Regions from separate parts of the Homo sapiens genome. Here region 1 is linked to region 2. A link means that fine-mapping ties the variant in region 2 to the expression of a gene that starts in the linked region. Tissue or cell type: whole blood. Region 2 holds a variant in brackets; the other region holds the start of a gene. All regions are shown on one strand. Distances are from middle to middle.

What was found. PIP is the estimated chance that this variant, and not a neighbour inherited with it, causes the effect.
Region 1: it holds the start of HOXA-AS2, and the variant in region 2 is fine-mapped to the expression of HOXA-AS2 in whole blood (TOPMed, PIP above 0.99).

Annotation. Positions count from the first base shown.
Region 1 is chr7:27,117,657-27,125,740 of GRCh38, forward strand. It overlaps HOXA-AS2 (HOXA cluster antisense RNA 2), which reads left to right and starts at 4,263. Exons shown (of 4, transcript NR_122069.1): 1 at 4,263-4,370; 2 at 4,811-5,010; 3 at 5,804-5,982. It overlaps HOXA3 (homeobox A3), which reads right to left. Exons shown (of 6, transcript NM_153631.3): 4 at 4,903-4,986. RefSeq lists enhancers at 4,040-5,239, 4,818-5,615, 6,415-7,212.
Region 2 is chr7:27,075,135-27,083,236 of GRCh38, forward strand. No RefSeq gene overlaps it. Among named protein-coding and RNA genes, the nearest start is that of HOXA1, 17 kb to the right of the region's middle. The variant T/C (reference allele first, on the strand shown) is at 4,764.

The sequences.
Region 1 (8,084 bases), 43 kb after region 2:
CCCTCTTCCAGCTGCTCCGGCTGCTCAGGTCAGCCCCTAATCCTCCATCCCCTGCCTGAAAACACCGCCATCCTGGGAGAGATTCCCCTTCTCACCCACCCATCCCCCACCCCTCCCAGGCAATCTAGCCCTGCAAGCCGGTCCACCTCTGCCTGCACCTGGCTTCTGGACCCTCTTTCCGCCTGGGGATCAGCTCCTGAGACTCCAGCCCTGCCCTGCTGCAGTGGACAAAGCCACCCTTGCACTGGGGGCCACTGGGCCCACCTAGGAGCCCCCCTAGTGCCCCCTCCTTTACACCCCCAACACTTTCCAGGGAATTAAATTCAGAGTCTGAGGCGCTACTGGGAATCTTTCAAATGGTTTCGGTTCTAAAAGAGAAACAAAGGAAGAGAGAGGCTGAGGGTCCTGTCCATGAGCCAGGGTCTCCTCGCCTGACCTTTGTCTCTCACAGCCATAACTCACTCTAGATATGAACAATCGGCGGAAATACCTTAAAATAAATTCCATCCTCCTGGTATAGCCTCGACTTCCATCGGCTAGCTCGCCCAGAACCGCTCCATGAGTGCTGAAAACTGCAATCGGCTCAGAGAGCGCTCTCCGGAGAAGGGGAAGGAGAAGGAGGAGGTGGGTGCGTGGGGGTTGGGGGAAAGCTCTGGCTCTGTAGAGAATCTAGAAAACGTAATCACAGGCGAAGCCTGTCTGGGTCTCCGCTCCAAATGCCACAATAATGCGCTGTATTATGTGCTCACGTGGTCATACGTCAACTTAAATCCTTTTATTTGAAATAGGGAACCACTGAAGGAACTAGGTTTCCAAACAGAATATTTAGCTTTGGGGGAGGGTAGGTGGGGAACCTTGACCAGCAGTTTTGAGTTTAAGAGTTCTGTCTAAGCAATAGGATGCTTGGAGCCATCCTCCCATGAATGCCATATAAGACATACAAGCTTATCTCCACTTATATTTCTTTACACACCCTCCAAACACAAGGGTTACAGCAATGCTATTCACATTTTTAGAATCCATTTAACTTTCCTTACAGCCTCCCACCCACGGACAAGCTGGATCCTGCACACCCATGCACCCCAGTCTCCTCTGGCCCACAGGCCAGTATATCAAAAGGCAAGGGGCAGGCCCAGAAATAACTGGCCTGGACAGCGGACTTCCTCACAGCCTGCCATTGTATGGAGTTTGCTAACACCCACACCATACACTACAGACGCAAGAAACACCAAAAAGGCACATAATTACCTGACAAAAGGTTAAAGCATCTCCTCCAAGTCCAGTTGGTTTTGTTCAGTGGGAGCCCACTAGGAAAGATGTGCTTGGCTATAGAGTGGTGGGTCCGGGTTTTGCAAAATCTAGAGAAACCTAGTGCCCTGACTAAACTTGCACTTAAGCATTTCCTCAGTGCACAACTGAGTGATACATGGAATTATAAGTTTCTAAACATAAAAAATATCAGAGGAAATGATCTAATTGCTCTGCAAGAGACCCCCCCCCCCAAAAAAAATAAGAAAAAAAAGAAAAAGAATCAACCTTCACTGGAGTGCCTTAAGTTAACAAGGCAATCTGGGACCCTCTCCACAGGCAGGTCTGTCCACCCACTTTTCCAAGACAATTCTGTGTCCACCAGCAAATTCTCTCCCCACCCCCACACAAGTTCCTATAGAGATATCAACTCAAAGATGAGAAAGAGCCCCCTTCAGAACTCTCAAAATAATCTTGAGCAGAAAACCAGTAGAGAACCAACTGTGCTCAGGAAGAACCTAACTGAAACAAATAAGCTGCTCCCACCCTTGGTTCCACCCCTACTCCTGCCTTCTGCCTGATGACATTGCCCACTAATTTCAACATTGTACCGTTTCATGAGCTGTCTAAAAATCTTCTCTTTTCTGGTCTTAGTTTCTGAACTTCTGAGAGTGCTCTGAGGCTAGTGAGATCCTCAGGCCATATTCTTTTTTTCCTGGAGAATGGGTCTTCAGCTGGCTATGCCTGAGTGTGAGGACTCACTTATAGCAGCTGCAGGAGGCTGTGCATGATTCCTCCCCTTCACTCCTCCCCTGCAGAGGAACAGAAGGGGTCTGATGAAAATGTAAGGCCTTTCATAAGAGAACTTGTTCATGGGTTGTCCAAATCAGAAAGGCAATAAAAGAAGAGACCTAATCCCCTGGAAGCAAGTCCTGGCCTAAGCTGGTGACAATATTTCAGTAAGGTTCAATCTGTGGTGTAGCTGGAAGAGAACCTCCATGTGAACTTTTCCAGCTCCTATCTAAGTTACAAGCTGGAAAGTAAGAACTCCAAGTGAAAACCTGCCTCTCTCAGGTTTGGGGGATAGAGGACAGGAGTAGAAGCTGGTTTCCAAAAAGCGTTCTCCTGACCCCCAAGAACTCACTCCTCTCATTCTTACTGCTGCCTGCCTCATACCCCTCACCAATCATTCACACTGAGCTCTCCAGATACCCTAGAAAGGGACCTGGAGGTATTGCTGGCAAATTCCTCCCTACCCCCAAGTTTCTGAAGAGGCATCAACTCAAAGATGAGAAGGGGCCCCCTTCAAAGCTCTTGGAACAGTCGAGCAAATGAAAACTCTTAAAGCCATAAATTGTCCGGGTGCGGTGGCTCATGCCTGTAATCCCAGCACTTTGGGAGGCCGAGGTGGGTGGATCATGAGGTCAGCAGTTCGAGACCAGCCTGAACAACATGGTGCAACCCCGTCTGTACTAAAAATACAAAAATTAGCCAGGCATGGTGGTGCATGCCTGTAATCCCAGCTAGTCGGGAGGCTGAGGTGGGAAAATCACTTGAAACCAGAAGGCAGAGGTTGCAGTGAGCTGAGATCGTACCACTGCACTCCAGCCTGGGACAGAGCGCGACTCTGTCAAAAAAAAAAAAAAAAAAAAGCCATAAATCAATGAAATAAGTCATTGGTACTGCTTCAGAGAAATGCCTTAACGCCAGCAAAGCTCAGAGGCATCTCAGCTCCAGCCTGGGGCCTCCAAACGGCTGCTAACATCCAGTTAATGCTCCAACTGCTGTTTAACAATTAACATTAATGACTTGGGGTGGGATGGGTGATTTGGTGGGATGAGAAGGGAAAAATCTGAAAAGTCAAAAGACATTTAACTTTTGAGGTTAAAAAACAGCTTCTCTATGAGAGATCTTGGCCTGGGCAGCCTATCTGGGGAACCAGCAGCTGACAGTCCTCCTTTGCCACTCTGCAATCCAGTTTCCTGGAGCAAAGCTACGGGCCTTTTAAAAACCCAGCTGCCAGTCCCTCTTCACTCACTTCACCGGCCTCCAACTTGGCCTGCGCTGGGACTGATACTGTGGTCCTGGTCACCAGAGCCAAAATAGGGGGAAAGCTGGCTTGGAAAAAGCAGGCAACCAAGGGTACACACCGTTAGCCAATATTTGCAAGGCTGTTGGCAGATTAGATATATCTGTACTCAAACACTGCAATCTGATTTCTCTGTCAAAAGTACACTTAACATTTTTGTCCCATTACTTAAATCTAGTGGATTTTCTACTCAGCATCAGGTAAGGCTCTCTTAGCCCACTGTGTGCGTGTGTGTGTGTGTGTGTGTGTGTGTGTGTGTGTGTGTGTGTATGATAGATTCTTATTTAACATGAGATATTTCCTGTGGGTGCAAGTGCAGTAGAGAAATGGGCCAAGTTCTCTGGACACGTGTGGATGTGTATATTGTGTTATACACAAGGCCCCAAATTCCTGCAACTATTTATACATGCAATTGTTCTGTTGTTTGCTGAGATGGAAATCATATACACAGAGTTACAAATTCCTGAAATGTTCCATCTATATTTGATATAAACAGACATACAGTAGCTGAGAAAGTAACACAGCTTGACTATTGCTCTGTTTACCTTCTATTGGAAAAAATAATTGTATCCAGAACACCATATCAGCCTTATAGCACGACTGAATATCATGTTGCAATTAATTAACAACCTGATATCTATTTGGGAGCAAATTTAAGGGAAGACTGGAGGCCTAGGAAATAGAATACAAAATCTCAAAACTTTTTAAAAAGAAGTAATTCCTGAAAGAACAAAGCAAACTCATTCCTTCATACCATGCTTCTGAAAGCTATTCCAGCAGCCCCTCCCCCAAACAGGCATGTAATTTATGGATCTTTTACAAGGTAATAAACCACAGTAATTACCTCCCTGCATCCCAAACTAAGAGGACAAATTAAGTCAGAACTTGAAAATAATTTAAAAGAGTTTTCCCTTGTTTCAAATAGGAAAAGGAAACGCCAAGACATAGAAAACCACGCTTTTCCCGTAGGAAGAACCGATGATGAGCCCTGATGAAAGAAGGAAGAAGACCCGCTGTCTGCGAAGGCCTAAAGGTTAGAAATACAGCAATTTTTCTCATGCCGAAGGAAAGGCAAAATGGTCTAAGAAACTGCAAGAGTGTGATACAAGTTTTCCTCAACAGCGAGCTGGGACTGGCGACAATTTCTTAACTCACAGCCTCCGCAGTCGCCTTAGTCGACAAAGAGAGCAGCCCACGCAGCGGCCGCCGCGCCCGTGCCCGTGGCCTTTACTTGCTTTTGCCCTGAAGTTCAGTGTAGTGGTTTGTTTGGGGCTTGCAGGAAGAAACAAACACACTCCCTCTGACTCTCCACAACCCATCTTTGCCTTCTGCAACCGCTTCTCCTGCCCATCGCTGGTTTTGGGGTAGGCTCTTTGTCTGCCTGAGGCCCCGCACTCGCAGGGCAAGAAGCTTAAAGGAATCCAACTCCAAACTCCTCCGAAGTTAAATATTGACCAGAACCTCTTTCAACAGGCCGCGGTTGCCAGGAACCGTGGAGGGCCAACTCCTCCCAACCGCCCTGGTGCAAAGTCCCACGCGGCGAAGAGTTTTGGAGCAGCGCTTACCTAGAAAGATGTTTAAATTCTGAACCAGGAATTGTCTCCAACTCCAGGCGCTCAGGGAATCGCCTTTTCCGGTGTCCAGGCGCTCTGCAGACAAATAAACAGCAGAAGGTGAATGGCGGCTGCGAGGGAAGGGAGTTGGAGGCCGGGAGTGGGAAGCGAGGCTCATGCGGGCGCCAAGGTGGCCCTGGGGGTGACGCGAACATCAGGGAGTCACCAGGGCACTCGTCCGTGTGGCGCACTCATTGCTCGAAATGTTCCAGTCTACAAATGGTCCGAAGATGGTGATTTATTTTTGTAAAATAAATACATACTCCATCTCCACACCCATACTTTCTCCTTTTTCTTTCTTTTTTTTGGCGGGGGAGTGGGGAAGGAAAGGACATGAAGCAAACAGAGGAAGCTGAGAAGGTGGAAGTGGCTTTGCTGGTGGTGTGGGCTGCTTTCAGAGAGCTCTCTCCTCAGGCACCACAACTTGGAGAATGTGAATGCTTGCTTTATTTTCCTTTCCTAACAAAAGGAAGCCTTGTCTGGGAGCATTCAATCACGGACTCTCCTGAAACCTCACTAATATGTGTTCATTTCTGTAGGCGCGAAATCAGACCCGGGTTCATTCCACTGGCCAGAGGCAGTCTTGGGAGGATTTGTGTTCTGGTTTATTCAACTCTGGGTGCGTTCCTTTTAGGTCCTAGTGGGCTGGCGGGGCTACCGCAGCACCTAGTCCCTCAGAGCAGGCCAGCTAAGGCTGCTGGAAACTGAGAGGGACGCCGGCTGGTACAATACCTGCTCAGGGGCCCTGCTCCTGCCTGGCCTTGCGCAACGGCCACAAGCCGATCTGATGCCTTGATTCTGCTCAAATCTCGTCCCTCACAGTATTTGCAACCCTCTCTTGCCCTCTAACCAGCAAATGGTCACCGAGCCGGCAGTCAGCTTTCTGGGAGTGGGAGATGATGGGGAAAGAGGAAAGAATCGTCCGCTCGCCGGACCCTGGCTTGGAGAAGTTCTGCGCTCCGCTGGGACTCTGCGGGCCCTTTGCGTCTACAGACCTATCCCTGCCCCGACTACCCCTTCACTCAGACCCAGGTAACCTCTTACCCCAGCCTGCCCCAAACCAGCCCTCCGCTGTCTGTCTGCCTTCACGCAATTCTGTAGATAGCGCTAAGAGGGGATATCAAATAGCTGAGGAGTCCCCTGACCCCTGGCTTCGGAGCCCCCTAGCACGTGGAACAAGTGGCCGCACACCGGTAGCTGCGCTCTGCCACAGTTCGACCCGTAGCCCCCACAAACCAAAGGAAAAGGACCCAGGATCCACGCTGCGCGCTGCGCCCCCTTTCTCTTGTTCAAACTTGCTTTCTGTGTCCCCAAAGGGAGTGCCCCCTGGTCTTGGGGCTCCTGGCATGACCATGAGCAAGGTGGACTCAGCCATCCTGCACTTTGCCTCTCAATTTCATTCCAGAAAGATCCGCTATGCCGCCACCCACCACTCCCCTGCGTGACACTTAGGAGTATGTAATTATTATGGTTATTATTTTTGCTGTTTCCTTATCTCCAAGTCTAATATTCATGGCTGCTGTACCCCATAAATCGTTCAGACTAATGAGTCACAGAGAGATGCTGCCCAGGTCTCTCACTTTACAATGGCTGCCGCCGCCGCCGTGGCCTCTCTCTCCGCGTTTTTGGCGCTCGCTTGCTCCCTCGCTCGCCCGGCGCGGGTGATTTATGAACGCCGGGAAAATTGAACAAAGCCGCGCGCCCGTCCTGTGGTATCTCTGCAGCCTTCCCCAGCGTGAATCAGAACATTACCAACTGTCTGCGCATCCGTCCCACTTCATCACCAAAGCCAGGATGTGACCGCAGAAAACCCAAGCCCGAACTCACGTTTCCCCGGACGCGGCGCGCTCCCTGGACTCGCAGAAACCCTGCGGAAAAGGCCCCAAGATCTGGTGAGGGCCTGCCAGCTCCGTCCTCCCTGCCGAGGGCTCTCTCCTGCCTTCCTGAAGGAGTTAAAAGCCTTTGGAGATAAATCTGAGGGTGTGTGTTTTTAAAAATCAAATGGTAAGTTGGAATCTCACTTCTGAGAGATTCATTCCTAGTGAGGCCCTGACGACTCCGATCCATTCCTGACGATCTGCATTAATTATTTAATGAGTCACGTGACCTCAAAGATTACAATTTCAATATCTCCCTTGCACAGGCGCTACACCTTTATCAGCTGCAACCAGGGTCCTTTTTTTGGCTCTGCCGGCCTCCGGGGCACATTCATCCTTGCCCTGGTCTGAGGCAAGCCACCACCATGGAAATAGCAGGGCAAGCATGACAGAATTAGTCATCCTGGGATTATGACCGTTGTGGATAGTGGGGAGTCCACTGCTCTCCGAGATGCCCTGACATCTGTCCCCTCCTGAGCCCAGTGGCCAGTCCACCTGTCTGAGCTCTATGACTAGGGTGGCTTGGTTACAAAATCTCCCCAAGCAGCTTTGATGGCCCATGAGGCAAGAACCCATCCTTCTTCTCTGGCTGTACACACCTGTGACCGTCCAGGTCAAGTGTAAGCTTAGATGCATACCTCCATTCCTGGCAGAATATCTTCCTAAGAGGAAAGATGTCTGTGCTCTTATTGCTCTCTAGAGTGAGACTAAAGGTTGCATTCCACCCTCGTACTCATTAACTTAAGGAACGGTGGAGGGAGGATCATTCGGCTGCCTCAGTTTTCTCATCTGTAAATTAAGAAGATTGAACCAAAATGGCCTCCAGGTCTCCTTCACTTTGGACAGTCTTTCAATCTGGGAATCTCTTTCAGCCCCAGGAAACAATCCCAGAGAAAGTAGGGCTGGCTTGAAAGGGAAGGGGTTGCCCCGTGATTTTGGAGTCTTCAGAAGAGGTGCCAGAGTTCTGTAAGTTGCAGCCTAGAGGGTTTCAAGACAGCCACAGCAGCCTCCCTCATACCATCAAGGGAACAGAACACACGTCTCTTCCTCCTATTGTTTCCAGCCCATGTGTTTCTTTGGAACACGAAGCAGAATTATTCTTGGGACAGTGTATAATATAGGGAAGGGGCAACACAGCAGCAGTTGAGAAAGGTGAGCCTGTGTTCTGCTATACAAGACTGTGTTTAGGGATGCAGAGACCAGGGGAGTGCCAAGGGCAGCCTACTGCCTGCACAGAACCCACTCATTCAGAGGGGA
Region 2 (8,102 bases):
TCTACATCTCTAAATGACACTATTGGTGGTGTACATGCAATTTCACTCCAAAAGCAGTGGTTACAGTACACTCTCCAAAAAGCTAAAATTAGTAAGACTGGCAATACCAAGTGTTGGCAAGGATGTGGAGTAACTGGAACTCTCATACATTGATGGTGAGAGTATTAAATTGATACAACCGGCTGGGTACAGTGGCTCACGCCTGTAATCCCAGCACTTTGGGATGCCAAGGCAGACGGATCACCTGAGGTCAGGAGTTCAAGACTAGCCTGATTAATATGGTGAAACCCCGTCTCTACTAAAAAAAATACAAAAATTGGCTGGGCGTGGTGGGGGGCGCCTATAGTCCCAGCTACTCAGCAGGCTGAGACAGGAGAATTGCTTGAACCTGGGAGGTGGAGCTTGCAGTGAGCTGAGATCATGCCACGGCACTCTTGCCTGGGTGACAGAGCAAGACTCCATCTCAAAAAAATAATAATAAATAAGTAAATAAATAAATAAACAAATTGGTGCAACCACTTTAGAAAAGTGTTTGGCAGCCTCTATGAAAGCTAAACACATACCTAGCCTATGATCTAACAATTCCACTCTTAGGAACATAGCCAAGAGATATGGATACATATTCTCACCAAAAGACATTAAGAAGAGTGTTCTTATAAGTTTTTTATAAGACTTACTCAAAGCCAGGTGTGGTGGCATGTGTCTGCAGTCCCAGCTACTCAGGAGGCTGAAGTGGAATGATTACTTGAGCCCAGGAGATCAAGGCCACCCTGGGCAACATAGTGAGACTCCATGTCTAAAAAGGAAAAGATTTACTCAAAATAGCCAAAAATACAAAACAACCAAAATGTCACCACAGTAGAAGAGATAAATGAAACATGGTATATTCATACAATGGAATATTACACAGTTATTTTTTTAAAGGACAACTATTATTACTAGCTATAACATGAATAAATCCTACGGATATTACATTAAGAAAATAGACACACAGTATCTACCGTATGAATCCATTTATATGAAATACAAAAATAGGAAAACTAATCCAGCAGTAGAAGTCAGAATAGTGGGGGTGAGGCATGAGGGGTGGGAATTGACTGGAAAAGGACACAAAAGAATCTTCTGGGATGCTAGAAAAGTTCTATATCTTGATCTAAGTAATCAAGATACACATCAGATACACATCACATCAAGTATGATCGAGATACACATCAAATACAGGTATGTGATCAATCTTAAAAGCGTTATAGAAAAAAGACACAAAAGTCTATATGTAGTATGATTTCATTTTGGAAAGGACAAAACTGGAGGGATAGACAATAGGTCAGTGGTTACCAGAAGATTTGGGTAAAAGGAGGGAACTGCAAAGGGTTACAAGCAAACTTTTGGGGATGATAGAAACAGTCTATATTTTGACTGTGGTTGTGGTAATCTGACTCTACATAGTTATCAACATTCATCAAATTATACATTTAAAAGGATGAATCTTATAGCTCAATTATAATTTGTTGCCTAGTTTGAAAATATTCAACAATCTAAACACTTAAGATTAGTATACTTTGGCTGGGCACGGTGGCTCACACCTGTAATCCCAGCACTTTGGGAAGCAGAGGCAGGCGGATCACCTGAGGTCGGGAGTTCGAGACCAGCCTGACCAACATGGAGAAACCCCATCTCTACTAAAAATACAAAAATTAGCCGGGCGTGGTGGCACATGCCTGTAATCCCAGCTACTCGGGAGGCTGAGGCAGGAGAATCACTTGAACCCGGGAGGTGGATGTTGCAGTGAGCCAAGATGGCACCACTGCACTCCAGCCTGGGCAACATGAGTAAAATTCTGTCTCAAAACAAAGATTAGTATACTGTGTGTACTTCCTATACTATGTGTATATTATATTTTAATTTTAAAAAGTTTGAAAAGTAAAGAAAAAAAAAGGAGGTTAAGTGGGTTGTAAGGCATGCATTCCAGTCCAGACTTTGCTACTGGTGTGTTATGTGAAATGCTTTAATTGTTGCTACTGAATAAAAATACAGAAAGTGTTAGGCCTGGAATGGGCCCTGAAACTCACATAATCTCACTTTGATCTACCGAGGAGTAATGATCTCTGAAATATCACACAGCTAGTCAGTTGTGGAGGCAGAAATGAAAACCTAGGACAACTGACTCTCAGACTCTGGTTCAATTCCAGTTCAAGCGAGATTTTTAAAAAGTCAAACTGATCATTTGATAATAAAGAAGTAGCAAATTTTCAACTAATTGTGTAATACTGGGCCCCTGTTTGCACATACAGTCATGTGCCACATAAGATGTTTTGGTCAACAATGGTCGGGCACGGTGGCTCATGCCTGTAATCCCAGCACTTTGGGAGGCCAGGGCGGGTGGATCACCTGAGGTCAGGAGGTCGAGACCAGCCTGGCCAACATGGTGAAACCCCATCTCTACTAAAAATACAAAAATTAGCCAGGCGTGGTGGCAGGCGCCTGTAATCCCTGCTACTCGGGGGGCCGAGGCAGGAGAATCACTTGAACCCGGGAGGAGGAGGTTGCAGTGAGCCGAGATGGCGCCATCGCACTCCAGCCTGGGGGACAAGAGCGAAATTTTGTCTCAAAAAAAAAAAAAGATATTTTGGTCAACAATAGACCACATATACAATGGTGGTCCTATAAGATTATAATGGAGCTGAAAAATTACTATCACCTAGTGATGTCATAGCTGTCAGGATATAATGAAACTAATTTTTAAAAGATAAATTTAGTGGGCTGGGCGCGGTGGCTTGGGCCTGTAATCTCAGAACTTTGGGAGGCTGAGCGGGGCGGATCGCCTGAGCTCAGGAGTTCGAAACCACCCTGGGCAACATGGTGAAACCCCATCTCTACTAAAACACAAAAAATGAGCTGGACATAACGGCACATGCCTGTAGTCCCAGCTACTCAGGAGGCTGAGGCACAAGGAACGCTTGAGCCCGGGAGGTAGAGGTTGCAGACAGCCAAGATCACGTCACTGCACTCCAGCTTGGGCTACAGAGTGAGACTCTATCTCAAAAACATGGCGAAACTCCGTCTCTACTAAAAATACAAAAATTAGCCAGGCGTGGTGGCACACACCTATAATCCCAGCTACTCAGGAGGCTGAGGCAGGAGAATCATTTGAACCCGGGAGGTGGAGGTTGCAGTGAGCCCAGATTGCACCATTGCACTCCAGCCCGGGCAACGAGAGTGAATCTCCGTCTCAAAAAAAAAAAAAACTTTAAAAATAAATAAATTTAGTGTAGACTAAGTGTACAATGGCTTTTGTTTTGTTTTGTTTTGTTTTTTGTTTTTTTTGAGATGGAGTTTTGCCTGTCACCCAGGCTGGAGTGCAGCGGCATGATCTCGGCTCACCGCAACCTCCGCCTCCCGGGTTCAAGTGATTCTCCTGCCTCAGCCTCCTGAGTAGCTGGGATTACAGGTGCCTGCCACCATGACTGGCTAATTTTTGTATTTTTAGTAGAGATGGGGTTTCACCATGTTGGCTAGGCTGGTCTTAAACTCCTGACCTCAGGTGATCCACCCGCCCTGGCCTCCCAAAGTGCTGGGATTACAGCCCTGAGCCACTGCGCCTGGCCAGTGTACAGTGTTTATTAAGTTTACAACAGTGGATAATAATGACCTGGGCCTTCTCATTCACCCACCACTCACTCCTGACTCATCCAGAGCAACTTCCAGTCCTACAAGCTCCATTCATGGTAAGTGTCCTATACAGGCATACCATTTTTATCTTTTATACGTATTTTTATTGTATCTTTTCAACATTTAGATACACAAATACTTACCACTGTATTACAATTGCCTACGGTATTCAGCATAGTAATAAGTTGTACAAGTTTGTAGCCTAGGAACATCTATACCATATAGCCTATGTGTGTACTAGGTTATATACCATCTATATTACTGTAAATACACTCTATGATGTTTGCACAAAGATGAAATAATCTAACGACACATTTATCAGAACATAGTCCTGTCATTAAGCAACATATGACTACATTTGCTTTTCACTTCCCAAATGCCACTGTACTCCAGCCTAGGTGAGAGAGTAAAATCCTGTCTCTAAGAAAAAAAAAATTATTGTTATATATATGAGTTATCCGTGATCATTTGATAATAGCAATTTACCCAAAAATGCAGATTATGACAGCCTCTATTTAGGAAGCTCCAGCTAAATCTTGGCATACCATCTACCCCTTCCTGTCTGGGGCCATCTCCAATGTCACTTAGTCATACAAAGTACCCAAACTGCTCTACCACTGGGAGAGGTATTTTAGGTACAATCCAGATTATATGACTCCTTTATTAACTCCTCTGAAAATTCAGTTCCTCTGAAACAAAGTCAACATTTTTAAGTCCACACATTCACAAACACCCCAGATCTTATCAAATTCTATAATATAAGATGGTGTTCATTGTGCTACATAGTTCCTAACAATATTCTCATAAAATTGCAAACAAGAGCAGTTATGCCATACTTCTCTTGAAAATTGAAACATTAAGGAAGTGCTAAATCAGTGATCTCTAGTTTCTCTTTCTATGCTCTGTAGCTATCTAAATGACCTTTTGACCCCCTTCCCCTCCCATCCCTCACTAAAACCCAAACACTAACTTCTCTCTGACCTCCACCCCCTGCAAAACAGAAAAGAAACTAGTATGTTATTTACACTTTTTGATTGACTGACTAGTTACACTTAAGTTCCTGTTGTTGTTGTTGTTGTTGAGACAGAGTTTCA[T/C]TCTGTCACCTAGCCTGGAGTGCAGTGGTTCAGTCACTGCTCACTGCAGCCTTGACTTCCCAGCCTCAAGCAATCCTCTTGCCTCAGCCTCCCAAGTAGCTGGGACAATGGGTGTGTACCACTACACTCTGCTAATTTTTTTTTTTTTTTAATTTTTAGTAGAGATGAGGTAACATTCTGCTGCCCAGGCTGGTCTCCAACTTCTGTGCTCAACTAATCCATCCCCCTCAACCTCCCAAAGTGCTAGGATTACAGGCATGAGCCACCGCACCTGGCCCACTTTAGTTCTAGTAAGTTTTAGCAGTATGTTAATTCAAGCAATATTTACATTTTAAGCCATTTTATCCCTTATTGCATAATGAAAGGCCAATTGCTTCTCCATTAAAGAATTCTGACCTTCAATTTAACTTCAGTAAGCAAGTGAGAAATATTTTGGAAACAAGGAAGAACTTGCAACTACACTTTGTATTCCTAGTCTTGGGGAGTCATGAACCACATTAGAATAGCTGAGAGGAGCTGGGCGCGGTAGCTCACGCCTGTAATCCCAGCACTTTGGGAGGCCGAGGCAGGCGGATCATGAGGTCAGGAGATCAAGACCGTCCTGGCTAACATGGTGAAACCCCATCTCTACTAAAAACACAAAAAATTAGCTCGGCGTGGTGGCATGTGCCAGTAGTCCCAGCTACTCAGGAGGCTGAGGCAGGAGAATCTCTTGAACCCGGGAGGCGGAGGTTGCGATGAGCCAAGATCTCGCCACTGGATTCCAGCCTGGGCGACAGAGCAAGACTCTGTCTCAAAAAAACAACAACAACAAAAAGAATAGCTGAGAGGCTATAAAGAAAGAACCCAAAGGATCATTTGCTCATTTACTCACTCATTCGTGCATTCAGTAAACATTTACCAAGGGTCTACCACGTGCCAGGTATTGTACAAGGCAGACAGAATTATAAGATATGGTCTCTATCCTGAAGTAGTTTGCAAGGAGGAGTCGCAAACAGATTAAAAATATTTAAAGCCCAAAAGTGAGAAGCGCTCTGACAAGTAGAAAACACTGAAAAAGAACAGGAGAGATGGGATTCACTTGCCCTGGGGAGAGTCAGAGCAGGTTTCATACGGACAGACCTGTGAGCTCAGCTTGAAGGAATGTGACATGTTGAAAGGCAAAGAAAGGGTTGAAATGGGTTTCCCAAACTTTCAGCCAAATATGAAAGGAGACAGGAGGAGGGGAATGGGTTACCTTTCTTTGCACAGAGGGAATTTAAGGCCAGAGAAGCTAATGACAAGCCCAGTGTCCACCGCAGCCACAAAGAAAAAGGGCTGTGGCAGCAGCTGGGCCCCTTCCTCTTATCTGTAGTCACACAGAGAACACAGTTGATGACAAGCCTTGCCAACATGCCCTTAGCCACTTTAGGGGAGGACAGGTGCAAACATTTTCATATAACTCCATACTCAGCCTACACTCTTTAAAAAGTTATGTTTGTATCAGGATATATCATTGGAACATAAATTTTATCCACATCCTTTAAAATAGTTACAATTTGGTTTTGCCCTGTTTTTGGCCTAAGAATTTCAAAGCCTTTGTTGGTGTTGAATTTAGGATCACAAAGGTTTGTAATCAAACAACGTCCTTGCCTCAAAATAGCTTCCTTCTAGCCAGGGAAGTATTAGAGGGGGTCTTGCCTAGCTATAGCAGATAAAGGCTTATTCCTGGAAGCTTGCTGAAGGCAGAGAAGCTCCTATTCCCTCCTCCCCAAATTCTAGCAAAGCCAGGTGTGTCTCTACAATATCCAGTGCTGACCTCTTTTGCACAATTTCTTGGCCTAAGCAACTTTCTTAGGTCTTTAACCCTCCCTTGCCCCAAAATGTGCAGATGAATAGGTTGTCATAAAGCATATTTGATGTTATTTTAGTCAGTGTCTAATATTTTTGTATCACAACCGTATTTCTTAGAGTTCTAAAATATAGCCCTCAAGGCTGGGCACTGTGGCTCACGCCTGTAATCCTAGCACTTTGGGACACCAAGGTGGATGGATCACCTGAGGTCAGGAGTTCAAGACCAGCCTGGCCAACATGGCAAAACCCTCTCTCTACTAAAAATACAAAAATTAGCCAGGCGTGGTGGCACACGCCTATAATCCCAGCTACTTGGGAGGCTGAGGCAGGAGAATCACTTGAACCTGGGAGGCAGAGGTTGCAGTGAGCCAAGATCACACCACTGCATTCCAGCCTAGGCAACAAGAGTGAAACTCTGTCACAAAAAACAAAAACAAAAACAAAAACAAAATAGCCCTCAAACCCCTACATTATTCCAAACTCTGACAATGTTAACAATGAATATCCATTCTTTATTCTTTTTAAAAATATATTCATTCTTTCAACAGCATTTATCCAACAGTGAGGCAACGGGTTAGTTATCCCCTCAATGCCCATTGTCTCCTTCTTCCACTTTAGCTGGGCTCATGGCCACCCACCCACAGATGGTATTTCCTAGTATCCTAGGTGTGGCCACATGACTACATTTATCAGAATGGAATGTCAGTGAAATCTCCAACTATATTGTAAATTCCTGATGATCAGAAACCCTGTCTAACATATATTTTATTTCCAACAGTACCCATCCAGTATTATGTTAATAAATGTTTGTTGATCTAGCTTTTTATCTTGACTAATGTTTCATCTATACTATATATTTTGCATCAGAAATAAATTTTATGATTCTAGAAACATGAAAAAGAATAGAATGTAAATGGAAGTAATGTGTACAACTTACAAATCATTTACTTCACAGGAAATTGCTTGCTCTCCATTTTTGCTCTACTCCTCTTCCTAAAAACTGAAATAGGGATGTGGAGCTGACACAGCTTCAACCATGTAGAAAAGACTAGGGAATGTCAGAGCAGCACAGTGAAAGAAACAGATTCTGAATGACTTCACATGCTGAGGTACCCCACCAGTGTAGATGCTTACATTCCTCTAACATGTTACATACAAGAGAATTAAACTTCAGCCATATTTAAGCCACTTAATTTTTTGGTTTCTTTGTCACAGTAGCTTAGCTGGACCCTAGTTAATATAAACATTTATTCAATGTCTTTTGAGCGTTTACTATGTGACAAGAACTGTCTTCTGGGTAAACATAAAGTGGCGAATAAGCGGAAAAGCTCCCAGAACACAGGTTGCTTATAGTCTAGAACAGGGGTGTCCAATCTTTTGGCTTCCTGGGGTCACATTGGAAGAAGAAGAATTGTCTTGGGCCACACATAAAATACACTAACACTAATGATACCTGATGAGCTAAAAATATATATCACAAAAAAAACTCATAATGTTTTAAGAAAG